Homo sapiens: one gene and its partners. The protein of the gene in region 3 purifies or fractionates together with the protein of the main gene of each other region. This does not show direct contact. Each region holds a gene or a part of one and is shown on either strand. Other genes may lie near its edges. The genes, in order: PHLPP1, SLC20A2, SLC22A2, SLC25A24, SKAP2, ARV1 and PPM1L.

The links.
Region 1: the proteins of SLC22A2 (region 3) and PHLPP1 purify together in Homo sapiens (affinity purification with mass spectrometry; one large-scale study listed by BioGRID and IntAct). This does not show direct contact.
Region 2: the proteins of SLC22A2 (region 3) and SLC20A2 purify together in Homo sapiens (affinity purification with mass spectrometry; one large-scale study listed by BioGRID and IntAct). This does not show direct contact.
Region 4: the proteins of SLC22A2 (region 3) and SLC25A24 purify together in Homo sapiens (affinity purification with mass spectrometry; one large-scale study listed by BioGRID and IntAct). This does not show direct contact.
Region 5: the proteins of SLC22A2 (region 3) and SKAP2 purify together in Homo sapiens (affinity purification with mass spectrometry; one large-scale study listed by BioGRID and IntAct). This does not show direct contact.
Region 6: the proteins of SLC22A2 (region 3) and ARV1 purify together in Homo sapiens (affinity purification with mass spectrometry; one large-scale study listed by BioGRID and IntAct). This does not show direct contact.
Region 7: the proteins of SLC22A2 (region 3) and PPM1L purify together in Homo sapiens (affinity purification with mass spectrometry; one large-scale study listed by BioGRID and IntAct). This does not show direct contact.

Annotation. Positions count from the first base shown.
Region 1 is NC_000018.10:62,970,174-62,974,656, reverse strand, and holds part of PHLPP1 (PH domain leucine-rich repeat-containing protein phosphatase 1), read right to left. Parts: intron 2,144-4,483; coding exon 1,949-2,143; intron 1-1,948. UniProt on the Homo sapiens protein: Protein phosphatase involved in regulation of Akt and PKC signaling.
Region 2 is NC_000008.11:42,494,247-42,498,729, reverse strand, and holds part of SLC20A2 (sodium-dependent phosphate transporter 2), read left to right. Parts: intron 1-4,483. UniProt on the Homo sapiens protein: Sodium-phosphate symporter which preferentially transports the monovalent form of phosphate with a stoichiometry of two sodium ions per phosphate ion.
Region 3 is NC_000006.12:160,244,935-160,249,417, reverse strand, and holds part of SLC22A2 (solute carrier family 22 member 2), read left to right. Parts: intron 1-33; coding exon 34-202; intron 203-2,119; coding exon 2,120-2,234; intron 2,235-3,872; coding exon 3,873-3,979; intron 3,980-4,483. UniProt on the Homo sapiens protein: Electrogenic voltage-dependent transporter that mediates the transport of a variety of organic cations such as endogenous bioactive amines, cationic drugs and xenobiotics. Functions as a Na(+)-independent, bidirectional uniporter.
Region 4 is NC_000001.11:108,140,763-108,145,245, forward strand, and holds part of SLC25A24 (mitochondrial adenyl nucleotide antiporter SLC25A24), read right to left. Parts: intron 2,949-4,483; coding exon 2,781-2,948; intron 1-2,780. UniProt on the Homo sapiens protein: Electroneutral antiporter that mediates the transport of adenyl nucleotides through the inner mitochondrial membrane. Originally identified as an ATP-magnesium/inorganic phosphate antiporter, it also acts as a broad specificity adenyl nucleotide antiporter.
Region 5 is NC_000007.14:26,861,460-26,866,454, forward strand, and holds the start of SKAP2 (src kinase-associated phosphoprotein 2), read right to left. Parts: upstream 3,132-4,995; 5' UTR 2,971-3,131; coding exon 2,904-2,970; intron 1-2,903. UniProt on the Homo sapiens protein: May be involved in B-cell and macrophage adhesion processes. In B-cells, may act by coupling the B-cell receptor (BCR) to integrin activation. May play a role in src signaling pathway.
Region 6 is NC_000001.11:230,995,557-230,999,109, forward strand, and holds part of ARV1 (protein ARV1), read left to right. Parts: intron 1-203; coding exon 204-428; intron 429-1,564; coding exon 1,565-1,707; 3' UTR 1,708-1,711; intron 1,712-3,553. UniProt on the Homo sapiens protein: Plays a role as a mediator in the endoplasmic reticulum (ER) cholesterol and bile acid homeostasis. Participates in sterol transport out of the ER and distribution into plasma membranes.
Region 7 is NC_000003.12:160,754,855-160,759,030, forward strand, and holds the start of PPM1L (protein phosphatase 1L), read left to right. Parts: upstream 1-1,376; 5' UTR 1,377-1,454; coding exon 1,455-1,853; intron 1,854-4,176. UniProt on the Homo sapiens protein: Acts as a suppressor of the SAPK signaling pathways by associating with and dephosphorylating MAP3K7/TAK1 and MAP3K5, and by attenuating the association between MAP3K7/TAK1 and MAP2K4 or MAP2K6.

The DNA of each region.
Region 1 (4,483 bases), on a different chromosome or scaffold from region 3:
TACTTGTTCTGGCAGATTATCAAGGGAGAGAAATGGCAGAGACGGACAAAAGACCATTATTGCTCCCATGGCCTCATGAACAACTATGGCAAGCCCCACAAATGGTAACACTGCCCAGGCCCCTGCTGTTCCTGAGTGGTACAGGAGCAAGAAAGTTAAGAAAAACAGCCTCCCGTTTTACAAGGGCAGACCCTCAGGTACTGTCTGCTCCTATCACGTGTGTAAGGTAAGCAACTGGCAAGAAGAGCAATGGAAACCAGGGCTGCCTACTTGCATGCATTAGGAAATCCCGCACAAAGACCAGTTCCCCTAAGGACCAAAAGCTCACCACACAACCCGTACCCTCTTAACAGATAGGGAAAATAAGAGACATACAAAAGACCCTGGAGAAGGGCCTATAGTTTAGGTTCCTAAACTCCAACTTTCAGATATTTGGCTCTAGACCCTTCCAAGGCATCTCTACTTTCTCCCTTTCACAGGCACAGTGATTTGTAAAAAGTATAGCAAGTAATCCGAGACTGGGGTTCTCAGTTTTTAATTCTTACCCAGTGCTTGAGGGTGCATAAAAAGCAGACCTTTTGGGGGTTGTGAAGGGATGTGTTTGTGCTGTGGTCTGTATGCACATGTGTATGTGTGTGCATATGATACATGCTTGCTGTTTTTCTAGAACAAAAGGGTGGTAAAAACAGGAAAGCTGATGTGCCTGCTAGTTACAACATCCTTTGAAGGGAGTCTCACAACCTGAGGTCAGGTCCTGGCTGCACTACCTATTAGCCCGTAGGCACTGTGCTTCACCTCACTGTACATCACTTTCAGTAACATTACCCAGCTAACTGGTAACAATTTATGACACATAAGGTAATTTAGAACAATGACTGGTACATATTAAGGGCTTGCTGGATATTAGCCATTATTGTTCAGTTGCTAATTGTATATGCTCACTGAGAATCTGAAAGTCAGGGGTGAGTGTAGCAGCAAGAACCACCCCAGGCTTGCCTCCACCAAGCTCTCTGAGAGGAACCATTTGTGATGCAGGTATCACTGTAAAGGCTGCTCTGAACACTCCTCCCCAGACACCACTTCTACCCCTCTAACAAAGCTACTTGCTCTGGCAGAATATCAAGGGAGAGAAAGAGCAGATAAGGATAAAACACCATGACTGCTCTCATGACCTCAAATACCAGTACATTCATCACTCCTGGGTCCCACATGAGTGAGTCTGCAGCACAATACTTATAGACAGGCAATTCCATTATTACCTAGAAAGCCATGAAGGTGGTAAGAATAAACAATTCTCTGAATGAAGGAATCCTCATTCCTCTAAGAGTTACAAACAATATTCCACAATTTCTACAGCAACCTAAAGCTCTGCTGCTGGTGGCAACTCCAGGCTATGGCCTAGGATTCTGCCAGTAACACTGTCTTGAACATTTAATAAAGGAGAAAACAAAATATAAAGAATGATTTAACTCTTGGGCTAAAATCTGACCATCTTGATTTCACAAAGGTTTGCACTATCTCAAACCAGTGATAGTATTTCATAAGGGCCAAGAAACTAGGATAGAAACGGTCCATTTCAAAGAGAGGTCCCCACAACAGAAAGTCTAAAAAGCCCCTACAGCTCACATGATTTGGGAGGAGAAATGGCATTGCAAACAATCTGATGAAAATCTGCAATCAACACAGGCCAGTGAGGTCCAGTTCTCAGAGAAACTAATTCCTTGTCATTGTCTGAGCCTTCTACAAAGTTGTCTGAACATCAGTATGTCTCAAACCGGAGCACCATTCCTGATGCCTGGGCAACACCAAACTTGCCTGAATGCATCTTGGTACTCATAGTCAAAAAACATGGCTTGGAGACCATTGGGCACCTGCTTTTCTAAACAGAGGATAAACACTCAAAGAGCAAGAAAACACACAGCAGGTAAGCAGGAACTCTGAGTTTTACCTTTGCATGACAATGAATGTATTGACCATGTATTCTTCTTCGTTTTTTGTTTTTTGCAGCTCTTCAGCCAAAATGTCACTCATAGTGCACTGGAGAAGGTAGGGCACCTCCACATTCCGGTCTCCGTCAAACACACCATACAGGGCTTCGCGGTTGTCACAGAAGTTATTCACCGACAGGGCTGCGACACACAACCTGCAAGGCAACCACACTTCTGTGCTGAGTCCACTCATCCTCCTGCTCCAGGCCCAGCCCAGTGCTTATTTCAAGATTTTCCTAACTCAGTTTTGTCTCTTTCTTCATGACTCCAGACAGATTAAGGGCAGGTAAACTGACTCCAGCTAATTTCCAACAGCCAATTTTGATAAGCAGAGAAGGATGAGCACAAATTATGCTTCACACATGCCTTCCTACATGCTTCTCTTCTGATGAGTTTATTTTTAAATGTCAGTGACAGAAGGGGAAAAAGAGGCATGGGAAATAAGAGAAGATTATGAATCCATATCTACACATACATTCAATAAGCAGTTATTAACCACAATCTCCACATCCAGCCAAAATAGAAAACTAAAACACTGGGAAAAATAGACGAAACCTATATGAAAAGCATGTACAAATACAGAAAAAGCCTCAAATGACTTTTAAAAAATTATTTTTATTTTTATTTTTTTTTGAGACAGGGTCTCCCTCTATCACCTAGGCTGCAGTGCAGTAGTGTGATCTCGGCTCACTGCAGTCTCCACTTCTAGGGCTCAAGCGATTCTCCCACCTCAGCCTCCTGAGTAGCTAGGACTACAGGAGTATGCCACCATGCCCAGCTAATTTTGTATTTTTAGTAGAGATGGGATTTCACCATGTTGGCCAGGCTGGTCTCGAACTCCTGAGCTTAAGCAATCTGCCAGCCTCAGCCTCCCAAAGTGCTGGGATTACAGGTGTGAGCCACTATGTCCAGCCTTCAAATGACCTTTTTAAAAGGCAGGAAAAACAAACAAACAAACCCCAACTGGACAATAAGAGCACAGGTCAGTAATCCTGGAGAGAGCCTGCTTCCCGCCCAGCTTCCTCCTGGGGAAGTGTCCAGGCTGCAGCACAGGGAGGAAGACCCAGGTGGAGGCTGTGGTCTCCGTGCATTGAGGAGATGGAGCTGGGGGCTGAAGGAGGACAAGGTGGCCAGAGTCCACAGTCAGTGCACTGGAGGAGGATAGTGGTTCCCGGCAAATGTGGAAAGTTTGGAGACTGTCTCCACTCCAAACTCAAAAGAATCAAACTGTTTCCAAGCAACTGTGTCCCAGAAACTGTCCAAAATGAAACAGAGAGGAAAAAAAAAAGACTGGGAAAAAAAAAAAATAAGGCCAGGACCTTAGTGAGTGGTGGGATAACTTCAAACAGCCTACTATACTATAGGGAGTTGGAGTCTTCGAAAGAAGAGACAGATAACACTTTTGAGGAGTTGATGGCTGAAAACATTTCCAATATGAAGAAAATTATAAAACTACAGATACTGCAAGCAAGACAAACATGAAGAAGACTTAACTGAGACACATCAAAATCAAATTGCTAGAAACCAGGAACAAAGGCGGGAGGTAGAGCAGGGGAAACCAGGACGTGCCCAACAGCAGGCTTCTCCCTGGAAACCTGGTAGGAGACAGTGGAGCAACGTCTTGAACGTACCAACGGAAAACAACTAGAAAACAACCTAGATTTCTAAGCCAGTACAAACAGCTCTGAAAAGTTAAGGGGAAATAAAGACATTTCCAGATGCACAAATAAAAGCATTTACCACCAGCAGGATGGCACTAAAGAAATGGAAAAGGAAATCCTTGAGGCACAAGAAAATGACACTAGATGGAAATCCGGAACTGTACAAAAGAATGAAGCACAACGATAATGACAGCCAGGTGAGTGAACAGAAACATTTCCTCATTTTTTGTTTCATTTTTTTTTGAGATGGAGTCTCACTCTGTCACACAGGCTGGAGTGCAGTGGTGTGATCTTGGTTCACTGCAATCTCTGCCTCCCGGGTTCAAGTGGTTCTCCTCCCTCAGCCTCCTGAGTAGCTGGGATTACAGGCACCCGCCACCACGCCCAGCTAATTTTTGTATTTTCTGTAGAGACAGCATTTCACCATCTTGGCCAGGTTGGTCTCATACTCCTGATCTCGAGCGATCCGCCCGCCTCGGCCTCTCAAAGTGCTGGGATTACAGGCATGAGCCACCATGCCCAGCCTCATTTTCTTATTTTAAAAATCACCTTAGAACAGTGATTCTTAATAGAATATTCAATAATATTCTAATGGGTATTGGGAGGCAACAACAAAGAATTATCTGGCTCAAAATGTCAATGGTATTGAAGTTGAGAAACACTGCTTTAGAAAATAACTAAAGTAAAAATAACAATAATGTATTTTGGAGGTTATAACATAGATGGAAGCAGAACATATGACAACAACAGCATAAAGGCCAGGACAGGAGAAGGAGAAGTACATATTTGCAAGGTTCTTATATGTGAAATGACATTACTATTACTTGAAGGTAA
Region 2 (4,483 bases), on a different chromosome or scaffold from region 3:
CCAGCTGTTCATCTAAAGTGGAAGGAGCAGTGAGCAGGAGGGATGCCTTCAGCTTCCGTCCGTCTTAAAAACAAGTGTAACATAATGGGATATGGCCCTCAGGAGGAAGGCTGATTTCTCGGGCATACGGGGTACTGCTGTCATTATTTAGCATGTATTAAGCACCCCACAGCACATGCGGTGCACAAGGAAAGCATAGTTCCAACCCACATGCTACAACAAGGCAGGACACAGAAACTGGGCCCCCTGACATTCAGTAACTACACTGGCAGAAAAAAAAATGTGAAAATGAAGAAAAGGGAAACAAGATGAGTGGGGTGGGTTGAGGATACTTCAGCATTCAGCTCCTCTGAGCTTTTGCCAAAGACGATTAGGACAGACAGCTGTGCCACCTGGGCTGTGCCTTCCCTTTCTCCTCCATAGCTGGGAAGTGATGGGGACAAGTGACAAGACTGACCCCAGAAGCCTTGCCCCCCACTCTCAGTCCTCTGTTGCAATCCTCCTACAAAGAGGAGAAGCTTCACAGTTTCACTTGCACCTAAAACTATTATTATTATGTGGAGGGGGTAAACTTGTTATAAAGTGCAATAAATATCAAAGCATCTTTCTCCATAAAATGATATTTAGATAGAAATCTGGAGTTCCAGATTCTCCCTTCCTGAACTGGTTTGCAATTCAACAAGTTACTTAACCCTGCACTGGTTTAGGATATTGAGTCAACTGTAATATTAGTTAGGGAAATGCCTTCAGCTTCTCAGAGGAAAGGCATTATGAAGGTCTACTGAGCATTATTGCAGCTTGTAAAGGAGTTAGAAGCACATGAATCAGAAGAAGGGCTGATAGGAAGGCTTGGGTACTGGGGAGTAATAACATGAGCGGCCTGCGTGGTTCTGTGAGTCTGTGAGTCCCTCCCCCCGTGCCCAACCTCAGCCAGTCTCTAAGGTTCTGGGTCTAGTTCATGGCTCCACAACAAAGAGACTTGGCTCCACAAAGAACCTCAAAAAAAAAAAAAAAACCAATTGAGGGTTGGAAAATGATACCTATGATAAGAGGGTAGGGAACTTCTATTATTTAGCCTGGAAGAGGAAACAAATGACCGGGAGACTCTTGAATTGTTCTTCAAGTATATGTGTGTCTCAGTGGCAAAGAATGGTGACCCACTGGTATCTATTTCCATCTAGAATAAAAGGGTCAGGTCCAGCAAGGGTTGGGCTGGAACAGAGGTGCCGACAGTGGGGACCCTGTTTCTTCAGCGTCAGCACCGCCTGGAAACATGTGAGAAATGCAGATTCTCAGGCCCCACCCAGGCCCTGCTGAATCAGAAAACATGGGGTAGGGCCAGCAGCCTGTGTTTAAAAAATCTCCCAAGTGATTCTGGTGCACGTTGACATTTGAGGTCTGCTGGATGAGATGCAAAGATGGAGGGTATTATAAAATGGGCAATCTGGATGCCAAAAAATGTAACCCTTTTTCCTGAAGTCATCTAAACATGGGATTATATTTGTTTGCAGTGTTTTCAATGTACTCTCTAAAGTCAGGAGATAAATGACCTCTCAAAGTCCCTTCCAGCCCTGACTTTGCTCTGGATTTCCTTTTGTCACTTAGAGAAGATTAATAATTAACCAGGAAAATTTTGCAATTACTTTTCTGAGCTAAGACAGTGTTCCTCTCAAATGAGGCTCACCTGAGATAATGTGAGAATAATATTGTGTTAGCATATGGATCTACTGTATTTTATCAGTGTTACCAGACTCTCCTCCCCATGTGACCTCACAGCCACCTGCAGGGGATCTGGGCAGAGGTAGCGTGTAGCCCATATGGGGGGTGGGGAGCTTATTGTTGGCTCATGAGCACTTTACATCACAGACTGTGGCCAGGTTGGTCCGTCCCTGTCTTCACACAGCCCATTTCAGAAGAGAGGGGGCTGCAAGGAAAGTTGGACCCTACCCACTACACCCTAGGAGCAGGAAGCAACATAGAAGGCCCTAACGAATCCAAGCACAGTGGAATGTATTATCTGTGTGTCAGCTCTCACTAGAGATAGAGGAGAGGGACACATTTTATCACAACATTTTTGTATCTACAACAAATAGCCCAGGGGCACACATAGGATGGACTTAATACAAATAAATTCTAATTCCATTGGAATGGCTAAGGCCACAAGTAAGTGCTCTGCCTTCTCCTCTGTAATGAGTTCTCTAGAGTCAGGAAGGTGGCCATTCTCACCTTTCCCAATCAAAACAGTTACTCCTAGGAGTCCCCTATTCATCTCTCTGCTCTCTCTTCCACCCACCTTTATTTGCACGTAATAGAAATGCATCTGAATTTAGTTATGCCTGTGCCCTTTTGTATATTTTCCTTTGTGCTTTCGCTTGACAGAAGTGTCTCCGGTTGAAAACACAGGCTGCTGAGAGTGTCTATTTGTTATACTTTGTATAGCATTTAGGACAATAAAACCTTTTTGTGCTCATAATGAAGAAAGGGCTCTCTGAGGACATGTTTTGCCAGTGCTGTTAAAAAAGTGTCATACTTCCTGCAGGAGCTAGGTTTTTAAAAATAATAATAAAGATAAAAATAAAAACTGTCACACAAGTAACGCACTGCCATGTCTGAAAAAGACCCGCCCTACCTTAGCCAGGAAATTGTGGCCCTAATATTTCAGCACTTGAAAATGGGATCTGGCCGGGTGTGGTGGCTCACGCCTGTATTCCCAGCACTTTGGGAGGCCAAGGTGGGTGGATCACTTGGGGTCAGGAGTTCGAGACCAGCCTGACCAACATGGTGAAACCCCCTCTCTACCAAAAATACAAAAATTAGCCGGGCGTGGTGGCGCACGCCTGTAATCCCAGCTACTTGGGAGGCTGAGGCAGGAGAATTGCTTGAACCTGGGAGGTGGAGGTTGCAGTGAGCCAAGATCACACCACTGCACTCCAGCCTAGGCAACAGAACAAGACTCTGTCTGGAAAAAAAAAAAAAAGGGGGAGGGATCTGTAGAATCCTTGGCTTTTATAGCATAGTTAATTACATGTTTGCAGAGTACTAAAAATTGCTTGAGGTGAGAAAAGACTGGTGAGGACATTTGAGCCAAACTGTAGTTTGCCTGGTCATAAGATATTGATGTTACTATTCAGTCTTTCAATCTTTCAACCTCATTATGTTTCAAAAAACTGACCTCTCAGACATGAAGCTGCATGCACTGTTATTTTCTACATCTGTGTCTGTTTTCAGAACATATGAGGCCCAATGAACATGGTGTCTGTACAGAGATAAGATCGACGTGTCTCCCCACTCCAGAGGGCACAGGGAGCTGATCTTAACCCTGAATGAGCCTTTCAATATAAGTAGAGTCTGTGAAACCCATGAACTTCCAATAAATATACAGCCAGTAGGGAACATTCCAAGTGTCTGTTTAATTTGGTTCTTAATAATGGCAGCCAAAAAGCTATTTTCATTTCTGTACAAAGAGGAATTACTAAATAGTCATTCTTTTCTTGGTATTTCTTCCTTGGAAAAATCACGTTTCTAAAATCAATCTGTAGCTAGTTCACAAATGTGTCATTAAAAATAAGAGACGTGGCCGGGCGCAGTGGCTCATGGCTTTAATCCCAGCACTTTGGGAGGCCAGGGTGGGTGGATCACGAGGTCAGGAGATCGAGACCATTCTGGCTAACACAGTGAAACCCCGTCTCTACTAAAAAAAAAAAAATACAAAAAAATTAGCCAAGTGTGGTGGCACATGCCTGTATTCCCAGCTACTCGGGAGGCTGAGGCAGGAGAATTGCTTGAACCCGGGAGGCAGAGGTTGCAGGGAGCCGAGATCGCACCGTTGCACTCCAGCCTGGGTGACAGAGCAAGACCCCATCTCAAAAAAACAAAAAAGAGTGGTTAAGTGGTTTGGAATAAACTTTGTCTCATTATAGCTGTCCAGTCAAAAAAAATTAAACTTGAAGAAAAAGGTAAAAAATTTTACTTATTATTAGACTATACAAGATTTATGGACCTAATAGTTGAATAAAATATCCCCAGAAACAACCTAATAAGTTACTGATTAAATAATTTATTGTATTTCCACAGCATAGAACACTACGCAGCCATTTGAAATGATGGCGTTAGATGTATATCAAGTAAAAACTAGCAGGTTACAAAACATTATGTATTTATGACCCCATTTTTATAAAAGCAAGGCACACCTATGTATGTACCTGAGAAAAGAATGCTGCATTTATTATGAGCAATAACTATCTCTAGGAGGTGAGCTTATATGTGATTTTCACCCCTTCTTTTTGGTTACCTGTATGTTAATTTTTTTCTTCAATAAGCATAGATTACTTATGTAATAATAGAAAACTTTCTCTTTAAAAAGTAACTATTTTAATTAATTTTTATTTTGACTTTATATTTTATTTAATTTGGCAGTGGCCTCTCAGTTGGCTTATATAAGTAGTGCCTAGTCCAACTGATAAAGCTAGTACACCAATATGTT
Region 3 (4,483 bases):
GAATTGCATTAACCATTCAAATTCTCTCTGCAGTTACAGAATTTGTTGGGCGGAGATATCGGAGAACAGTGGGGATTTTTTACCAAGTTGCCTATACAGTTGGGCTCCTGGTGCTAGCTGGGGTGGCTTACGCACTTCCTCACTGGAGGTGGTTGCAGTTCACAGTTTCTCTGCCCAACTTCTTCTTCTTGCTCTATTACTGGTAAGTCCATTTGGAATAAAAAGGAAATAAATCAAAGTATTTTATTCTGCTAAGAAGTCTGCCTTCCTTAATGCACACTATCTTTCTGATTCTGAGATTGCTTTCACTCTCCAGACCCATTTCACAAAGAGCCCAATTCCATGTTTCAGGAATAAAAACCACAAGCTTCACCTCTCCGTCTGTAAATCAAATGTCCTTTCTCTTTGGGCTTAAAGTTTTTATGACTTGGATCTTACATTTCCACATTATTTATTTGGTGTTTAAATTAGCTTCTAGGAGCTGTGGTACAATTTGGACGGTAGACCCTTTGAAGAGACTGAAAATATCACTATTACTATTCTCTCCCCACTCAGAGGAAACTTTAGGGTGGAGAAAGCAGAGCATGGCACTTGTGTCACCATTTCCCAATACTCATGCCCAAGGCAGACATCCCCAGTGAATCACAGTATTCTTCATCACAGATAAGGCCAACATGACACTCCAGACAGACCATACCAATCAATCAGAGTTACCAAGGCAAGTAAAATATATTAGTCATCCCTGCCTAAGGGAAACACATGGGAAATACCAGAAACTCTTAGAAACCCCTAATGTGAGATTATCTGAAATAAAGCAAAGGGGATACTGGATTATCAGACCAAATCTCTCTCCCATGCTACAACCCATTTATTTAGTTTCTCCTGGATTTACCCACTTGTTCTTCCCATGGCTGTCTTGCCTAAGAATTAAACATCTCAACTCTTTCCCAGAAGCCTGTTTCTTATCCAAAAGCCAATAAAACTCTGTGTTTTACCAGCTCAGACTGCAGTGACAAAATGCCATGGACCGGGTACTTAAAAACATATTTCCCATAGTTCTGGAGGCTGGGAAGTCTAAGATCCAGGTGCTGGCAGATTTGTTCCTGATGGGAGCCCACTTCCTGACTTGCAGACATCCCACTTGTGGGCCCTCACATGGTGAAGAAAAAATAACACTCTAGTCTCTCTTCCTCTTCTTGTAAGGATATCTGGGGGCCCCACTCTCCAGACCTCAGCTAAACTTAATTACCTGCCACAGGCCCCAACTCCAAATTGCACACTGGGGGTGAGGGCATCAGTGCATGCGCTTCAGCGGGGACAGAAACATTCAGTCCATTATACCCTGAGAGTGACCCTTCCTGCTGTCTCTATTACACTTCCACAAAAACATCCATTCCAAGTTCCTTTTAAGCCCTGCCTCTCAGAGCAACTTCGCTCCCAGAGTGATGATCCCAACTGGGGCCTTCCTACATTTACACCATAACTGCCACAGCAGCAGCCCTATTATCTCCTTTCTCCAGTTTCTCCTCCCGCTGAACCTCCACCCTGAACTCATTCACCCTGAACCCAGCTGCTCAGAGTTCCCTCCAGACACAGAGTCAATAGTTCTAGTCTTGCTCAAAAACTTGCAAGGGCTCCCCGAGCCCTGCTACATCAAACTCAAACTATGAAGTCTCGCTTTTCAGTTACCTCACCCTCTGACCTCAAATTCTTATCTCATTCCTTTGGGAAATTGAGCATAACACATATACATACTTGCTCCCCACCCCCACAATGGTTTGCATACTCCAGCATCCAGTCCTTGACCCCTCTGCCAGTTCTCAGGCCTTTGCAAAGCCCAGGGCCACCCTGAGGGACCTGCCTCTCCTCCTTGCAAGAGGAGCTGGATGTTCAGCCGCACCCTGCTTTGCAGCTTGCTTCCTGTGTTTCTGCTTAGAAATCCCTGAGGAGGGATTTAGCATTTGAGGGAGGAAAGAACCACATATCCCCCTACACGAGTGTTATTTTCTTTGGAGATCCAACTGTATTAACATCCTCAGAGAAATCTGATTATAAAAAAATGGGGGATGGGGTAAGGAGGATTCAGTAAGAGTTGCCCTCCGCTCACCTTGTACCCTAGGTGCATACCTGAGTCTCCCAGGTGGCTGATCTCCCAGAATAAGAATGCTGAAGCCATGAGAATCATTAAGCACATCGCAAAGAAAAATGGAAAATCTCTACCCGCCTCCCTTCAGGTGAGCCAGGGCCTTAAGTATCAAATCAGGGGATGGAGAAAAGGGAGGCTCTGGTAAGATTCATGCATGCCAGTGATCTCAGCAGGGAACCATGGAAGCACCCACCCCCTTGCATTTTGGCTTACCTGTAGCGGAATGCAACAGAGAATTTTATATGCTAAGATTTGTGGTTCCGTGGGAGAATATTTCAAACAGGTGGAAACCATCAAACTAAAAGAGAACCAGAAATCATTTAAAGGTCACGTGAGGAGCTTCTGTCTTGTGCAACTTAAGCCTTCACCAGTCTCCTATGCCCAGGTGCCCAGCACCCCCATCATCTGCATATTCACCATCCTCAGGTCAGATTCTTAGATCAGTAAAGCAGTTCTTTAAACACACATGATTTCTTAGAATTGTAAACACTTTGGATAGAAATTGTCCAAAAAGCTTTTTTTTTTGAGATGGAGTCTTACTCTGTCACCCAGGTTGGAGTGCAGTGGCACAATCTCGGCTCACTGCAATCTCCACTTCCCAGGTTCAAGCGATTCTCCTGCTTCAGCCTCCCTAGTAGCCAGAATTACAGACGAGCACCACCACGCCAAGCTAATTTTTGTGTTTTTAGTAGAGACAGAGTTTCGCCATGTTGGCTAGGCTGATCTCGAACTCCTGACCTCAGGTGATCCACCAGCCTCGGCTTCCCAAAGTGCTGGGATTACAGGCATGAGCCACCGCACCAGGCTGAAAAGCTTTTAAGCAATCCCCTGCCTTCTTAAATAGAATCCAGTTACAGAGGTGTTCGTTACCTGTGTTTATTGTTTGCCTTTAGTAGATCTCACCACGTTGACCTCAAACATTTTCATTCCACAGCGGGTAGAAAAGAGAAGATTAAGCTTATTCGAAAATAGGCCAGGTGCAGTGGCTCACACCTGTAATGCCATCACTTTGGGAGGTAGAGGCAGGTAGATCATCTGAGGTTGGGAGCTCGAGACCAGCCTGGCCAACGTGGCAAAACCCCACCTCTACTAAAAATACAAAAATTGGTCGGGCGCAGTGGCTCATGCCTGTAATCCCAGCACTTTGGGAAGCCGAGGCGGGCAGATCACTAGGTCAGGAGTTTGAGACCAGCCTGGCCAACATGGTGAAACCCCATCTCTGTTAAAAATACAAAAATTAGCTGGGCATGGTGGCGGATGCCTGTAATCCCAGCTACTCAGGAGGCTGAGGCAGAAGAATTCCTTGAGCCCGGGAGGCAGATGTTTCAGTGAGCCAAGATCGTGCCACTGCACTCCAGCCTGGGCAATAGAGCAAGACCCTGTCTCGGGGAAAAAAAAAAAAAAAAAAAAGCTGGGCATTGTGGTGCATGCCTGTAATCCCAGCTACTCAGGAGGCTGAGGCAGAGGATTGCTTGAACCCAGGAGGTGGAGGTTGCAGTGAGCCGAGATTGCACCACTGCACTCAAGCCTGGGTGACAGAGCAAGATTCAGTCTCAAAAAAAAAAAAAAAAAAAAAATGAAATGGGACACAGTATGGAAAGTGCTTGCTCTAGTGCTGGGCATGAGATGGGCGCTCAGGACGGTAAGAAATTATTGTTATTCCCTATGTGACCCAGGGACACTAGCATTAAATATACAAAGCCGTCCTTTCTATTCCTTTTCTTAGCGCCTGAGACTTGAAGAGGAAACTGGCAAGAAATTGAACCCTTCATTTCTTGACTTGGTCAGAACTCCTCAGATAAGGAAACATACTATGATATTGATGTACAACTGGTAAGGAATATTTTTCACTTTGAAATGCCTCCAAATTGTTTTAATCACAGTCATCCATAGTAAGGAAGGGAAGAAAACATGACCTCATCCCGGTATTAGCGCTGACGGTGGGCAGCAATGTGGGTTGTGTCTGGTAGGTTTTCCTGATCGTGTTTTTCTTGGGCAAATATTAAGATCGGTGTAGCCCCTAAGCACAGATCAAGGCAATGGCAACCTCGGCTTCACATTGGAATCACCTGGGAGCTTACAAAATACCAAAGCCAAAACCCCCAGAAATACTGATTTAATTGTTCTAGGGTAGGGCTTGGAAACCAATAGTTTTTTAATTCTCCAGGTGATTCAAATGCATAGCCCAACTAGAGAACTATTGGTATAACTTAATTGATGATGCATGTAGATCTCTATTGTAGTACAGAACTGGCAAAAAACAAACAAACAAAAAACAGGGTTGTGGGGGGATTGCCTTTTCTTTCCTTTTTTTCTTTTCTACCTGGAGAAAAAATA
Region 4 (4,483 bases), on a different chromosome or scaffold from region 3:
AGCATCTATAGAATGCACACAAAGGGAAATGAGAAGGGAATCAGAACATATCACTACAAAAAAAAAAAAAAATCAACAAAACACAGAAGAAGCCAGGAAGAGAGGAAGGGAAAAACAGAAAAGCCACAGGACAAAGATAAAAAGGTAGCTAGCCAAATGACAACAGTAAGTCCTTCCCTATCAGTAACTGCTTTAAATGTAAATGGATTAAATCCCCTAATTAAAAGATATAAATTGCTGAGTGAATAACACATACAGAATCAACTATACCTTATCTATGAGACTCACTTTAGATCTAAGGACACACATAAGCTGAAAGTGAAAGGATGGAAAAAGATATTCCATAAAAACGGGAACCCAAAGAGAAAAGGGGTGGCCATAATTACATCAGACAAAATAGACTTTAAGACACAAACTGTCACAAGAGACAAAGATGGACATTACATAATGATAAATGGGTCACTTTACCAGGAAGAAATTATAACTTCATATGGACCTAATATTAAGCTCCTAAATATATGAAGCAAACACTTACAGAACTGAAGGGAGGAATAAACAGCAACACAGCAATAGTAGTAGACCACCACCCCACTTAATGGTGTTGGGGAGGACATGGAGAAATTGGAATCTTGGTGTACATTGATAGAAATGTTAAAAAACAAAAAGGTCTAGTTACTATGGAAAATGACATGGAGGTTCCTCAAAAACTTAAAAATAGAATTACCATTTGACCCAGAAATTCCACTTCTGAGTATATGTCAAAAAGAACTGAAAACAGTATCTTGAAGAGATATTTGCACAACCATGTTCACTGCAGCACTATTCACAATAGTCAAGATGTAGAAACAATCCAAATGTCCATCAACAGATGAATAAAGAAAATGTGATATATATACCCAACAAATTATTATTCAGCCTTAAAAACAAAAAAGTCCTGTTGTATGCTATCATATGGATGAATCATGAGGAAACTATGTTACATGAAATAAGCCAGTCACGGAAAGAGAAATACCACATGATTTCACTTATACAAGGTATTTAATGTAGTCAAACTCATAAAACGAGAAAGTAGGTTACACAGCGCTGGGGTGAAGGGGAAATTGGGAGCTGTTGTTTAATGACTATAGAGTTTAAGTTTTGAGAAGTGAAAAAGTTCTAGAGATCTGTTGCACAACAAACCACAAACAGTTAACACTTACTGTACTATATATTTAAAAATGGTTAAAATCATAAACTTTATGTTATGTGTTTTTAATCACAATTTTTTAAAAAACTCAGCACAAGAAGTAAAGTCCTGAACCATACCACCTCACACCTAAGAGGACGGCCATAATAAAAATAAGCTTTTTTAAAATGGAAATTAAGTGTTAATAAGGACGTGGAAAAACTGGAACCTTTGTATGTTGCTGGTGAGAATGTAAGTGCAGCCACTATGGAAAACAGTCTGATAGTTCCTAAAAGCTAAACACAGAATGACCATATGGCTCAGCAATTCCATTCTGAGATATATACCCAAAGGAATTGAAGGCATAGACTCGAACAGATACGCAGATGCCAATGTTCACTGCAGCATTATTCACAATGTTGGAAAAGTAGAAATAATCCAAATGCTCTTCAACAGATGAAGGACTAAACAAAATGTGGTATATACACATAACGGAATATTACTCAGCCATGAAAAGAAATGAAGTTCTGATACATGCTACAACATGAACAAACCTTAGAGACATTATGCTAAGAGTAATAAATCAGACACAAAAAGAAAAATACTGTATGATTCTACTTATAAGATATCTTGAATGGGTAAATTCCTAGACATAGAAAGCAGATTAGAGGTTACCAAAGGTTTGAGTTACGGAGGGTAGGAAGTTATTGCTTAAAGGTTAAGGTGTTTCTGTTTGGAGTGAGGAAAAGGATTTGGAAATAGTGTTGATGGTTGCACAATATTGTGAATGTAATTAATGCCACTGAATTGTACACTTAAAATTAGTAAAATGGCAAATTTTATATTTTATAATAATTTTTAAAAATTATGTAAGAAGCCAAAAACCATTTGCTTGTACACTTCAAATGAGTGAAATGTAAGGAATATGAACTAAATCTCAATAAAGCTCTTTAAAAAAAAAATTCGACTCTTCTTTTCATTACACATTCCACTCTTCCTCTACGCTGTAGCTTAGGTCTCATCCTAACATGCACCCTGGCTCATGTCTGTCGCAGCACAGATAACCACGCTGAGTTTTAGTCGTTTGTCTCCCCCACCAGACCTTCAGTTTCTTCAAGGCACACATTGAGTCCTTTGAATCCCCAGATCCAGTGTCTAACCTAGTGGTTTGTATAGTGTGTGCTCAATAATTGTTTGTGAGATTCATAAATTATTAAATGATTTAGATTGCAGGGTTGATCCAAGATTTGTATTCTTCCGTACAAGGAATGAAACTGTATTACTCATGTTAGTCACATTAGTCACTTGGCTTAATGTCAGATTTTTGCAAATCCAAAACAAAGGAAAAAATCTCTAGAAACACCTTTTAAGGTGAACAACTATACCTAACTTTGAGTCTACTCTTCATTAACAAAAGCAATTCCCAAGAAAATCTAATACAAAAGTGACCCCATGCATATTCACACTCAAGTTACTTGAAAGTTCAAATAACACATGCTTGAATTTACTTCTGGTCACACACTGTTTTCTGGTATATATCTACTTCTTCATATAAAGTCCAATTCTAACAAGATCTAACTGCATTTTCCAATTCAAAAGATTTCTACAAACTCACCTCATACACAGCAAGATCTATGCCTGCATAAGGTATGATACCTAATAAATTGGGAACATAGCCTTTGTAAAAAGCTCCCAAGCCTTCATGTTTCAAAATCTTCTTGGCACAATCATATATTCCAGAGTACTGCCCAGTTTTGCCTACAGCCAGCCTGGTTTTCATAACCTGGATATAAAAAAAAACAAAATATGATTGTTCATATTAACTCTATCATCATGGGATTCAAATGAAGTAATTTTACATGGAACAAATACCTAGCACATATTGTCACTCAAAAGACTGTACAATTTGTTGATACATTCTCTTTCATGTATTACCTCTATTGGGGGGCTAAGACCAAAGCCAGAGAGACCCGTTTACTGCAAGGAGGATCTGATGAAGGAAGTGACCAAGGAAATGGAAGCAAGATAATCTATTGATGTCTTAACAAAACTGACTGGTGACCACCTGCATCTGGAAGGTGAGGGAAATGGTAGTATAAAGGATAACCCCAATACTTCTAGCTTGGAACACAGGATGGGGCAGTGGGGAGTTGGGAAGGTGATACTATTAACTGATATGGAGGATATGAGAGGAAAAATAGGTATTAAGTTTTTTTGAGAGGTGTGTGGAGTAATATAAACAATCATATTAAGATGCTTAAAAAAAGCTGTATTAGCATGCATACCACATATCGGTGAAAATTGTATTTATCTTGCTTAAGTCATCAGTTACTAAAAACCCCTCTGCTATATCAATAAATTCCACATCTACAATATTATTTTTGCTATAAAGCAGTAGTTGGAAAACTTTTCCTGTAAAGACTAAATAGTAAAATATCTGTCGTTGCAAGCCTAAAATATTAGGTCTCGGTTGTATATTACTTTTCTTTTCTTTTGTTTTTGCCTACTTTTTAAAAATTGTACTTTAAGTTCTGGGATACATGTGCAGAACGTGCAGGTTTGTTACATAGGTATACACGTGCCATGGTGGTTTGCTGCACCCATCAACCTGTCACCTACATTAGGTATTTCTTCTAATGCTATTCCTCCCCTAGCCCCTCATCCCCAAAAAGGCCCCAGTGTGTGATGTTCCCCTCCCTGTGTCCATGTATTCTCATTGTTCAACTCCAACTTATGAGTGAGAACATGTGGTGTTTGGTTTTCTGTTCCTGTGTTAGGTTGCTGAGAATGATGGCTTCCAGCTTCATCCATGTCCCTACAAAGGACATGAACTCATCCTTGTTTATGGCTGCATAGTATTCCATGGTGTATATGTGCCATATTTTGTTTATCTAGTCTATCACTGATGGGCATTTGGGTTGGTTCCAAGTCTTTGCTATTGTGAACAGTGCTGCAATAAATATACGTGTGCATGTGTCTTTATAGTAGAAAAATCTATAATCCTTTGAGTATATAACCAGTAATGGGATTGCTGGGTCAAACGGTATTTCTGGTTCTAGATCCTTGAGGAATTGCCACACTGTCTTCCACAATGCTTGAACTAATTTACACTCCCACCAACAGTGTAAAAGCATTCCTATTTCTCCACATATTTGCCAGCATCTGTTGTTTCCTGACTTTTTAACTAACTGGCGTGAGATGGTATGCCATTGTGGTTTTGATTTGCATTTCTCTAACAACCAGGGATGATGAGCCTTTTCTCACGTTTGTTGGCTGCATAAATGTCTTCTTATGAGAAGTGTCTGTTCATATCCGTCA
Region 5 (4,995 bases), on a different chromosome or scaffold from region 3:
TTTCTGTTCATATAACCAAAAGAATAATCAACATTTTATAAAAAGCATAGGTCTTCAAGACTGACTCCACAGAAAATATAACTAAAAATCAAACTAGATAGCCACTTTTTCAATGGTATCTTTACACAACACATGTGAGTTAACAATAACAACCTCTTTTTTTTTTTTTTTTTTTTTTTACATTTCTATGGAATGGTTTTTATAGGGGAAGGAAAAAGGGAGAGGGAACAAATGTTGAAAGTATAGCATAGAACTGCCATAATCAGACAGAAAAATAAAGAGAAAGAAAAATAATAAATAAGAATACACTTGAGTACCTATCCCTTTTAAGCAGGTGAAATTTCAAACAGTACATATGACATATAATGATTTAGTTTAATAGGCATATGGAACACAAACAGATACATCTAAGCAACATTATTTTAACAGTCATTATCTTTTGATTATATATTCTTCTTTCTAAAAACAAAGGACTTTAAACCCCTGAAAAGTTTAGTTCCTTATCTTCTCTACCTTGGAATTCTAGCATAGTACCATGCATTCTAAGAGCACTCAACTGTTAACTACAACACCATTACCAATATCTCCTCAGTTTCAAAGAAATAGACTAAATAAGCCAGCAATATCTCTAATATTCAAACCAATATAAATACTTCTATAATGTTACTCTAAATCTAGTCATATACTATTACCCAATACACTTGAATTATGAAAAGAATCATGTACAATGCTAACAATATTTTTAGATGAAATACATGAAACAATTGCTGACAGCATCTATTCTTGAAGCGTTCTCTACCTCAAAAAAGATTTTAATTACAGTCAAACATAAAATGTTAGCAACTTTCCAAATAAGTTTTTTTAAAACCTGAAAAACACTGATTTGTTAAATTTCTTTAAACATAAATACGCCCCAACTCACTTCCATACTTCTTGAAAATATCCTCTGAAAATAAAGTGTAATCCAAATTTCCAATTCCAAAAGTTTTAATTGTAATATTTTTTAATACTTCATGTGTGTTTTAATATGTGATTTGCTTTAATAATATAAAATAGTGAAAATGTCAATAAAATGACTTAAAATAATTTCAGATGCTATGCTAGTATATTACCTGACTAAAGAGAGAAGGCAGAAATATATTGGAAGTTAGCATTGGCAGATAATTTAAATATGTAATTTTGAGTTTTTAGTTAAATTACACAAATAAGGGCCACAGGAAATACTTGTGATCTATGGGGATAAGAGAATAAAGGTTCTCATGACCTACATATCATATTATCTGTGATTTATGATTATGGATCCAAATAACAAACTGTACTATGGGAGGTACCAAGCTTTAAAACATGCACCCAGAGGTCTATATGTTATTTCTTAAATTCAAAAATACAGACATAGAATATCCTGAAAATGGTTTCATCTATTTTTGGAATAATGATAAACATTTTTCTGCGCTGGTTATTACAATAATATTCTGAACAAACAATTCCAGCATTGTAAAAACAAAAAATGTTAAGTGTAGTAAAACAAAATCAGTAGTCATGTGATGCAATAAAGCTGCCTGAAGTCAGTCTTTAGACTTCTTTAACTATTTCCCTTAGTGGTACCCGTTAATGACAACAAGCATTTCTTAGAGTGAAAGACTATCCCACCACAAATGCATTCAACATACTGTACCATAATCATACAAACATAAGTCTACATTCATACACTTAATATTACACTACCATATTAATAATGCCAAGCACCAAAATTGAATGACAGAATATTAGGAGATTTGGACTCACATTGCTATAGGAGTAACATATAAAATGTGTCATCAAATGTCACATTTTAGATGACATTGCTTTTTAAGAGCTAGAATAAGCAATCTGTAATCTAGTTATTCATAAGCAATACTGAGAGATAAATATTTTATAGACATCTAAAACTAAAAATCAAAATTCAGTTTCCAGAATTCTGACGTACACAAGACAAAATAAATGATGGTTGAAATTCCAGAACATTGAGATAGGTAAGATTTGTGCTACCTTAAAAACATATATTTTCTACCTTGTACAGAAATATAAATTATTGGTTCTTAGTGAACATACACACCTCCGTATCCAGTAAATTAATGAACTAGTAGTGGATTCATAATGCTACTGAAGAACCACGTTTTTAGCTCCTAAAATAAGTTCCTATAAATGGTAATGTAAAACTGAAAAAGGGAAGATAAGGGTACAAAGATGAAGTACTTTCATCGTGTCACACAGGAAGTAGAACTTTAACATATCCTTCCTTTTTTGCTTTAATATATTACTGAGGCTGGGGACAAGTGGCCATTTGAGAACCAGACCTTCTTCAAAAGTCTTAAACGTGAGTGAGCTGAATGTTTAAGAAAAACGGGAGTTTTAGAAATGACAAACTCTTTCACCCCATAACCCCTAACACCTGTGGCTCTGACAGCTCTTTGCATCTCTACATCCTCTACCTCCATTGGCCAGACCACCCAAGAACTACTTATTTGACTTCTGCTCCCTTCTGCTTGCTCACGCAGCATTCATTATCATTATCATTCTCTCTCCCTCTTCCACTCTTCCTCCCCCGCCCTTCTGTCACACACACACACACACACACACACACACCGTCTTCACAATGCACATAGAAACGTCCTGATCCCATTTGTGTAGATCACCAAAAAGGGCTTCGCCACCATCCCCGCACCAAATTTCAACACACACGTCCACTCCCTTTCTGAGACAAAACAACCCCTCTCCTCTCCTCCCTGTGCCGACCCCACTGGCTAGAAGACGTGGGAAGCGCGGGGAGGGAGGATAAGGGCTCTGAATGCTTCTGTCCCCACCGGCTCACCGTTCCCTCGCCCCCGCCCCGACAGCATTATCGCCGCCTTCCCGCTCTTTACCTGCCAACAGGTTCCTAATTTCCTCAGGGAGGGGGTAGGGAGAGGAGGTGCTGCTGGGGTTGGGCATGTTAGGGAGCGCAGGGCGTGCGGGGAAAGGACCTGCGCTGAAAAGGTGACCGACGGGGTGGGGCTGCGGCTGCGACCTAGACTCAGGCTAGCGGCCCGGATTAAGAACAGCGGGGCTACGAGTCGGGACACTGCCGGGCCGGGGCTCACAACAAGGAAGTCACTGAATCTCCAGCGAGCTGCAGCTGGACTGTCGGCCCAGCCCCGCCCAGAGGGCCGGGGCGGGGAGATGGGTGGGAAGGGACACGAAGGGCCTGAGGGGTCCAACTGCGCATGTGTATTCCTCGGTTTTCCCGGCCCCAGAAGAAAGAGCCTGTGGGCAAGCCACGCCCACCGCTACGCCGGGAAGCAGGAGGAGGAGCCACTGGTGGGAAGGGGGCGGACTGAGGCTGCGTCACCTGATGCTGCGTCACCTGATCCAGCGTCCGGAGCGCCTTACAGCCATTTTCGGTACTGGTGCCATCACAACTGCTGATCGTTTCTGCAGGATTCCAGAAAATAATGTATCCATGATACAGAGTGTATACAAGTTTTGCGATTACGCCTTCTGCGTAACAGTCAGTCCCACCGCAGTTTAACCCACAAGGAATTTTCTCTTGTCCTAAACTATTATGGCCTTCTTTGTCCGATTGAACGGAGGTAACGAAGTCTCGTCTTCCGCCAGTCGTCCGGGCGAAGCCAGTCTGGAGCCGCTCCGGAGCGCGCGTTGTGATTGGCTCTTACATTACTTTTCTACCTAATTCGTATCCTTGGGGTGACAGATTTTCCCCACTACAAGGAAGACTGGGAAGTTCTAAGCACCGTCCTTTGGCAGGAAAAAACAAACAAAACAAAACAAAAAAACAGAAGGCCGAATAGACATTGGCACCACTGTCCATCTACAAGCATCAAAAATAAAATTGCTGGTGGTGGTTAGTAGAATAAAATTATAAAATCTGCTCACTCCAACTTGACCATTTAGTCAACAAATACTTACTGTCTTCTATCTGTAAAGCTTCTTAAAAGTTTTCTCTTTTAAAAAAAATGGCTTCTTTAAAACCTTTAACAGGCATACATCTTTGTGCTTCCCAGATATTGCATTTTTTAACAAATTGAAGGTTTGTGGCAACCCTGCATCAAGCAAATCTGTGGGCGCCATTTTTCCAAAAGCATGTGCTCAGTTCATGTCTCTGTCACATTTTGGTGATTCTAACAATATTTCAAACTTTTTCATTATTATTGTATATGTTATGGTGATCTTTGAAGTTACTATTATAATTACTTTGGGACATCACAAACAGCACCCATATAAGACAGCGACTGTAATCCATAAATGTGTGTGTTCTGACTGCTCTACCAACCCTATACCTTCCTCCATATCTCTCCCTCTCTTGGGCCTCCCCATTCCTTGAGACACAACAATATTGACATTAAGCCAATTAATAACCCTACGATGGCCTCTGAGTGTTCCAGTAAAAGAATCATTTTACTTTAAATCAAAAGCTTACTTTAAATCAAAAGCTAGAAATGATTAAGCTTAGTGAGGAAGGCATATTGAAAGCCGAGACAGACCAAAAGCTAGGGCTCTTGCACCAAACAGCCAGGTAGTGAATGCAAGGGAAAAGTCCTTGAAGGAAAGTAAAAATGCTACTCCAGTGAACACACGAATGATAAGAAAGCGAAGGAGGCTTATTGCTGGTAAAGAAACGTTTTCATGTTCTGGATAGAAGATCAAACCAGACATAACATTCCCTTAAGCCAACGCCTAATCGAGTGCAAGGCCCTAACTCTCTTCAAGTCTACGAAGGCTGAGAGGTAAAGAAGCTGCAGAAGAAAAGTTGGAAGTTAGCAGAGGTTGGTTCATGATGTTTAAGGAAATAAGCCATCTTCAGAGCATAAAATTGTAAGGTGAAGCAGCAAATGCTGGTGAAGCAGCTGCAGCAAGTTATCAAAAAGATCTAGCTAAGGCCAGGTGCAGTGGCTCATGCCTGTAATCCTAGCACTTTGGGAGGATGAGGCGGGCGGATCATGAGGTCAGGAGATCGGG
Region 6 (3,553 bases), on a different chromosome or scaffold from region 3:
CTAATACAAAAGCCAGGGGTTTATTTAAAAAAAAAAAACAACACACAAACAAAAAGAAGAAGAAAAAGAGATTGTGATCTTGAGAAAGTATTTCTTATGAAGTCAGCTGATAAGCTGTATTTTAGAATGGTGGTTTATTTGTTTTTAAGGGGATATATTTTGGATGGGGACATTCATACTTTTATTTTCCATTTCTTCTTTAGAACAAACTGCCTATTTTATTGGCATTTTTACCTTCCTGTGGGTAGAACGGCCCATGACGGCAAAAAAAAAGCCCAACTTCATTTTGCTGCTGAAAGCATTATTATTATCTAGCTACGGAAAACTCTTGCTGATTCCAGCTGTCATTTGGGAACATGACTACACATCTGTGTGCCTCAAACTCATTAAAGTATTTGTTCTTACATCAAATTTTCAGGCAATTAGAGGTATGTTTATGTGTTTATTCTGCCTTCTCAGTTTTCAACCCATAAAAAGCTTAAAGCCTTGTTTCTGGGGTGCAGTTTTTATATAACCTGTTGAACACTGGAATTCTTCATCGCATAGTAATAATACCTAACACTTCTATAGCACCTTATACATAGCAGGTACTCAGTGTTTGTTACATTTAACCATATAGTACTTTATAGTTTTCAAAATGCTCTCATATGCATCATCTCTGTCCTGTGAGGTTAGTAGAACTGCCATTATTTGATTTTATGAATGAGCTCCTGGGGCTCTGAGGGTTAAGTGGCTTGTCCGACGTTACATGGCTGGGCAGTTATCAAGTCAGGAGAGAATGCTGAGTATCTGCCTCTCAATCCAGGACAATTTCTACTATATCAGGAAGAGCAGCCCTGTGTGTCTTCATTTTTCCCATATATTTTACATAGTGCTATTTTATTTATTTTTATTTTATTTATTTTTTTGAGATAGGGTGTCACTTGGTCACCCAGGCTAGAGTGCAGTGATGTGATCAGAACTCACTACAGCCTCTACTTCCTGAGGTCAAGTGATCCTCCCAACTCAGCCTCCTGAAAAGCTGGCCACAGGTATATGCCACCACACCCTGCTAAATTTTTGTAGAGACAGGGTTTCGACATGTTGCCAGCCTGGTCTTGAACTCCTGGGCTCGAGCAGTCTGTCCACCTTGGCATCCCAAAGTGCTGGGAACAAGCATGAGCCGCTGTGCCTGGCCGAAGTCCTATTTTAAATGAACTTATTACCTGATACTTTTTATCAGAATGCTTGTCATCTTGCAAACTGTGACACTGAAAGTATCATTTTGTTGTTGTTGTCGTTATTCTCTTATAGCGTTAGAATTTTTTGTTTTCTCCTTTGATATTCACGGGAATCTGCCGCTTGATATGAGGAGAAGGGGCTCAGTGTTTTGTTGTAAGTAGAGGCTTTGGTTCTCTAAAAATGTGTAGATGGAAAAGTGGGAGAAGGTAACAGCATAGATTAATAAGAACAAACATTGATTTTTCCAAAAACAGCTTTACAAAACAATTCATACTACCCGAAAATTTACATGTCAATATCGTTTCATTAATTCTGAACTTATTGGCTGCCTTCTCCTTTCCAGTGACCCTAAACATCAACCGTAAGCTCTCCTTCTTGGCCGTGTTGAGTGGCTTACTGCTGGAAAGCATCATGGTCTACTTCTTCCAGAGTATGGAATGGGATGTTGGAAGTGATTATGCCATCTTTAAATCTCAGGACTTCTGAAGAGGTACTGAAAGCATGTAGTGTTCATGCATTCAGACATGTAGCCTTCTCAAATAAGACAGATGTCATTGTAAAAGAAGTCGGTGCCCTTACATAACCCATTCTCTAGCGTCTAACTGCCTCTAGGTCACCCTCATCTTCCTCAAGGACTTTACTACATGGCCCCCAGGGGTCTTCACTTTAGTTCCTTTTGTCACCCTCTGGGACATCAACATCCATGTTTTTGTTGCTTCTAGGGTCCTATCCTCACAATTTTTCTAACACCTCCACTCCCACCCATTCTACTAGGATTGCAGACTCTAAAACTGTCTCCTACCCTTCCCAACCATTCTCCACCCTCCCTTCCCCCATGCCAGGTTTTTGCTGCCTTTCTCACCTCTTAGTCTCTTGACCTCTCATTTTCGCTACTTCTGACCTGCCTTGCCTCTTTTTTAACCACACCTGGAACCTATAGGCTGTGTTGTGCTCTTCTCTGTTAGTACCTTGACATCCATCAGCCTTTTGCCTTCCATCATACGTGCTTTGCTAAGGCTGTTTGGGTGAGTCTTGCCACCTGTCTCCTAGAGAGCCTCGCAGTGTTTCCTGAGCAGCCACCTCTGCCAGTGCACAGAACCTCAGAAGATGTCATGCTGCTCCTGTGCCTTCATAGTCACCTCCAGTGACCCTCCCATCAGAGGGCCATACCTCGATTGTTCTGTTCTGGTCGTCCCCTTTGTCTGCTCTGACTTTGCTGAGAATTGAGACCTTCACAAGTTCCTTAAGCTTCCCTCTTCACGTCAGTTCGTCTTCGGTCTTCCTCATTCTTTCCTCCTTCTCTCCTTCCTATCTCATGTTGTGCTCAGCTTCCTCTCTGGGGCTGTTTCTGACCTGTGGGTGTTCCCCTCCCTCCAGTCACAGCCAGACTGTGGATGGCAGCCTCTGTGTTAGGAAGCAGGACCTTAGGCAGGATCCTGGAAGGCTGGGCCAGAGAGTGAGGAAAACACTGGAGCAGAGGGACACAGACCCCCGTCAGGGAGAGTTGAGGCTGCGCTTTGGTCTCTCCCTCCTCGCTGTTACATCCTCCTTGCAAGTAGCGGCTGTAAAGCTTCTCTGCCTCTCCTAACATGCCATCCTCCACTCCTGTTGCCTCAATCTCTCTTCATGCCCAGCTAATCCACCTTTTTGGGTCTTCAGACATATCGCTGCTTCATTGATCCTCTCTCCTGTATAGCAGCTCTCTCCCCTCTGCCTATGCACAGCTCTTCATTCCAGAACAGTTGATGTAAGCCTGCTTCCCCTGTTTCTTCACTGCCTTTCCTCTTTGTAAAACATACTTTCACCCAGAGTCTCTTGAACCTATGCTCCTAAAATTCACAAGGAGAGCAGGGCACAGTGGCTCATTTCTGTAATCCCAGCACTTTGGGAGGCCGAGTCAGGAAGATGGCTTGAGCCCAGGAGATCAAGACCAGCCTGGGCAACATAGTGAGACCCCATCTTTACAGGAAAAAAAAAAAAAACAATAGCTGGGCATGGTGGCGTACACCTGTACTCCCAACTACTCAGGAAGCTGAGGTAGGATGATTGCTTGAGCCCATGAAGTTAAGGCTGCAGTGAGCTGTGATTGTGCCACTGCACTCCAGCCTGGGTGACAGAACAAGATCCTGTCTCAAAAACAAAAAAATACACAAGGAAGCCAATTCCTCCTTGTTTTCTGAGTCCTCCTCCTCCCTTAGCTCTGCTCCAGAAACCTCTGGCTTTTGGCTCCTGCTGAAACAGGCCACCCAGTCCCTTCCCATTAGATCTTTCTTCACTGACTTCTTTGCCTGTGCCAGGATTCTGTCCTCAGCCCTCTTCCTTCCCTTCACTG
Region 7 (4,176 bases), on a different chromosome or scaffold from region 3:
GCGAGCAGGGAAGGCCTTCGTGGCCACTGAGTCCCCTACTCCAGGGGCGGCGGCCGCTCTCCGAAAGAGCGGCCCTTCTCGTCCCTCCCGAGGTTATCGTCAGAGTGCACTTCCTTGGGGAAACAGAGGTCATTCTGTCGAGTCCCCCCTTTCTGCTGTTCTCGGGAGGGAGAAGGCTGCTGGACCCAGGCTCGCTCCCCGCCTCTCGGGAGATCCGGGAAGGCCTCTATTGCTGAACGCCGAGACAGCGGCCAGCGGCCCGATCGTCTCCCTACCGCTTTGCAAGCCGGGAGAAGTGCGTCCCTTCTCGCTTGCCTTATGGCTGGCGAAGCGGGGACCGCACTATAGTGCAGCCGCCGAAGGGGGGAACGCTCACGTATGGCTCTCGGCTTCCCAGTGAGCAGCAATAGTTCCTGGAAAACCAACGCTAAGACTACCGGGGTCAGTATTAGCTTGTCTTAGGAGCCGGCACAGGGGGAAGGAACAACGATTCGCAAGAGCTAGGCAGCGGACCTCCCTCTTTTCTCCCCCTTGGCTGTCCTGGACCGCATGGGGCTGCGAGCCCGCACCGGCGGCCGCGGAACTTGCTCAGCCTCTGACAGCTGGGTGGGAACACCTCGGGGTGTCGAGTCCCGACTCAAGGGGCGGGACGGGGCGGGGCGAGCGCGCGGGGGGCGGAGCGCGCGCGAGCCGGGACGCGAGGAGGGAGCGCGCGAGTGAAGCCGAGCTGAGCCGAGCCGATCCGAGCCGGGAGGTGCCTGGGAGAGGCAGGCAGAGCCCAGCCGGCCGCCTGCGGCTCAGTACCGACCGTGCCGCGTCGCCGGGCTCTGCGTACCCCTGTCTCTGCCCAGGCTCCCGCAAAACTTTTATTCTCTGGGGCCCCCGGGGTGTGTGAAGGAATTGGAACCTTCCGCCATCTCCGCGCTCCCCTTCGGCGGCGACCGAGGGGACCTGCGTCCCTCGTCCGCCGGGCTCTGGAGCCCTGCGCCTCACCTGCTGATCGCTCTCCGGAGTCTCGAGGGGGCACCCCCGGAGGGACCGCGCGGGCGCCGGCGCCCCTGAACTCTCCCGCTCACCGCGGCAGACCCGCCCAGCGCAACTTTAACTTGATTCTTCTTGCCCAACCGGGGCACCAGCGGCTGCTGCTGCGGCGGCTGCTGCTACCGCCGCCGCCGCGGTCTCACAAAGGGGCTCAGGGAAGGGAGGCGGCGCGGGCGGCAGGGACGGGCCTCCGGGCCGCCGAGGCGGGGAGACAAAAGGGAAGCTGCCTCTGCTCGCGCTGCCTGCTCGGAGCCGCTTGCTCGGCTGCCTCTGGCTGGGCTCCGCGATCCTCTCCCCCACCCTCGGGCACTGCTCCGCCTCCCTCCCGGCGGGCTGTCCCCGCAGTGCTCCCGGACCCGGCGAGCCTTCGGGGCGCGCGTCGCTGGTGGTGGTTGAGGCTCTAGCGATAATAAATGATAGAGGATACAATGACTTTGCTGTCTCTGCTGGGTCGCATCATGCGCTACTTCTTGCTGAGACCCGAGACGCTTTTCCTGCTGTGCATCAGCTTGGCTCTATGGAGTTACTTCTTCCACACCGACGAGGTGAAGACCATCGTGAAGTCCAGCCGGGACGCCGTGAAGATGGTGAAGGGCAAGGTAGCCGAGATCATGCAGAACGATCGACTCGGGGGGCTTGATGTGCTCGAGGCCGAGTTTTCCAAGACCTGGGAGTTCAAGAACCACAACGTGGCGGTGTACTCCATCCAGGGCCGGAGAGACCACATGGAGGACCGCTTCGAAGTTCTCACGGATCTGGCCAACAAGACGCACCCGTCCATCTTCGGGATCTTCGACGGGCACGGGGGAGAGGTAGGAGCTACCCCGGGGCTTTGTATTTGTGTCCGTGTATGTCTCGTGTGTGTGTGTGTGTGTGTGTGTGTGTGTGTGTGTGTATAAACAACAGGACAGCGTGTGCGCAGCGGGAGAGGATCTGGGTGCGAGGGGCGTGGTGATGACACCACGGTGCCTGGCTGGACAAATGCGGCTCAAGTTGCCAAAAGCACTGCTGGATCCAGACTTCTTGGTGCTGAGGGTCCACTTTAGGGAAAGGAGAGTCATCCACAGCATATTTGTTGCTACTTAATGTGAGGTTCCCAAGGCCGGAACCCAGAAAACACTGTGCTAGTTTAGCAAGGAGAATTAATGGTATCTCCAGTGAACTTTGGTCCCAGACCCCAGTGCCCTTGTTCTAGGGTTTGAGCTGAACTAGGCACAGAGAAGGAAGACAATATCTTATGCTTCATTAGGCAAACAGGCTATATCTGCAGAGCGAGCTCATTGAGGGTGAAGGAAGCTGTGACTCCTTCCCATCGCCTTCACTCTAGGGAGGAATCCGAGGGGCAGCTCTGCGCTTCTTTCCAACTCTATCAACTTTACAAGTGCAATCGGGCCAATTGACAGGAGCGCCTCGCTGGCCGCTTGTTTTCACTAGGATCTCAGAGCGGGACCTAGATGTCCCTGGCCTTTGCAGAGGTGGCTATGCCCGCAAAGGAGGCGGTGCTTTGACCTCACCCTTGCGCCCTGGCGGGCTTAGGGGTGCAGACGTCGTCCTGCTTCTAGATTCCTTTGTTTGTGGTTCATCTGGAAGCAGGAGATAGCTAGAGGCCAGTTCAGTTCCCTCTCCCACATTTCTGTGGCACCCGGGTTGTGCGCTGAGGCCCAGGTTTCCTGGAGGTTAGGCAAAGCTTGGCTCTGGTCCTTGCGCATTGGCCCAGGCAAAGTGAGAGGCAAATGTGGCTCTAGCGCCATGCTCCAAAGAACACTGGGCCAATCACCCCATCTCTCAAATTGGCGGTTTGTAACGGGTTCATTGCTGCATACTCTTTGTTTTCCCTTTTGGCAGCATACTTTTCTTATTCTTAACCCCTTCCTGTTTTTGATTACACCCCTCCCCCGAACTCCCATACAAGTTTTCCCCCAACTTTCTTCTCTGCCCTCTGATCTCTGGGTAGGCTGTAGGGAACTGCAGGGACTGCCATTCTTTTTCAAGCATTTGCTTGTTCTTTGGCCTTTGTTTTGGGTAAACATTGAGAAAGCTTTCAACTGGATATCTTATCCGCATTCCTTACCCATCACTCTGCTAATCTTTTCATGCTACTGTGCCTACCTACCTTGTAGAACCAACTTTGCCAAGAATGACAAACTTAGTAGAAAAACTCATTTGGTAGAACTGAAATCAGTTTTTGCCATTTTCCATCCACTCTAGCTTTTTTTATATTGTTTTTTCAGAATGCAGGTTTCTCACTGGTTGTAAATTTGTAACCTCTTGGGTAGTGTCGGGGTCCCCTCCCCTTGGTCACAGAGTAAGTGAAAGATATAAAATTAATTGAGGGAAAAAAGGCTGTGTACATGGGCAAAAACATATCTTAATGACAAAGTTGCCAGTATAATGGCTGATTTGTCTTCTTGGCTTGAAGCAGACTATCTGTATTTTCATTTTTTTGTGCCTAAATTCAATGAGGGTGAAGGAAGCTGTGATTCCTTCCTTTGTAAATCATTTAACAAGCTTATATTTATTATATATTTTTATATTAAAATTGGTGGCTGGTGATAATCTGCTTCTGGTCTTAGAAAGCACAGTTTTAATTTTATTAAAGATTTGGTTGTAATAGTAATGTGGTGAAATTTTGGGTTGTGGTTGTCTGGGTGTGATGCATTGGCATAGTTTCAGCCTTGGGCTAAAAAGGTGTAAGTGATTGGGTGATTTAATTTTTTTTTCTTTTAAGTTGATACTGTAAAACCTGAAAGTTGCAGACCAAAACACTTTTCAGGTTGAAAAATTTCTAGTAGTATCTTGTGGTAAATGTACCATCCAGAAAAGGGACACGATAAATGCTTTTATTTTACTAAAAGTATTTTACACGTACATGGCTTGTCATTAAATTTTTTAACTGCAAATGAAAAGATGATAATCTTTAGCCAAACCATGAAATACTTTTCTTTGTGCCTTACATTAAAAAGCATGCTGTTTGCAAAATAATTGATATTATCAGTACTCTGAAAAATAGAGTATTTGTTCTGTTCATAATCCCTTATCGTATGTAGCCAGTTAGTTCATTTTGGCTTTGTTTTAGGGCAAAATAAGGAAAGTGCTACAAAAGGAGTTACTTAATTGCTATTGGGAGTATAACAG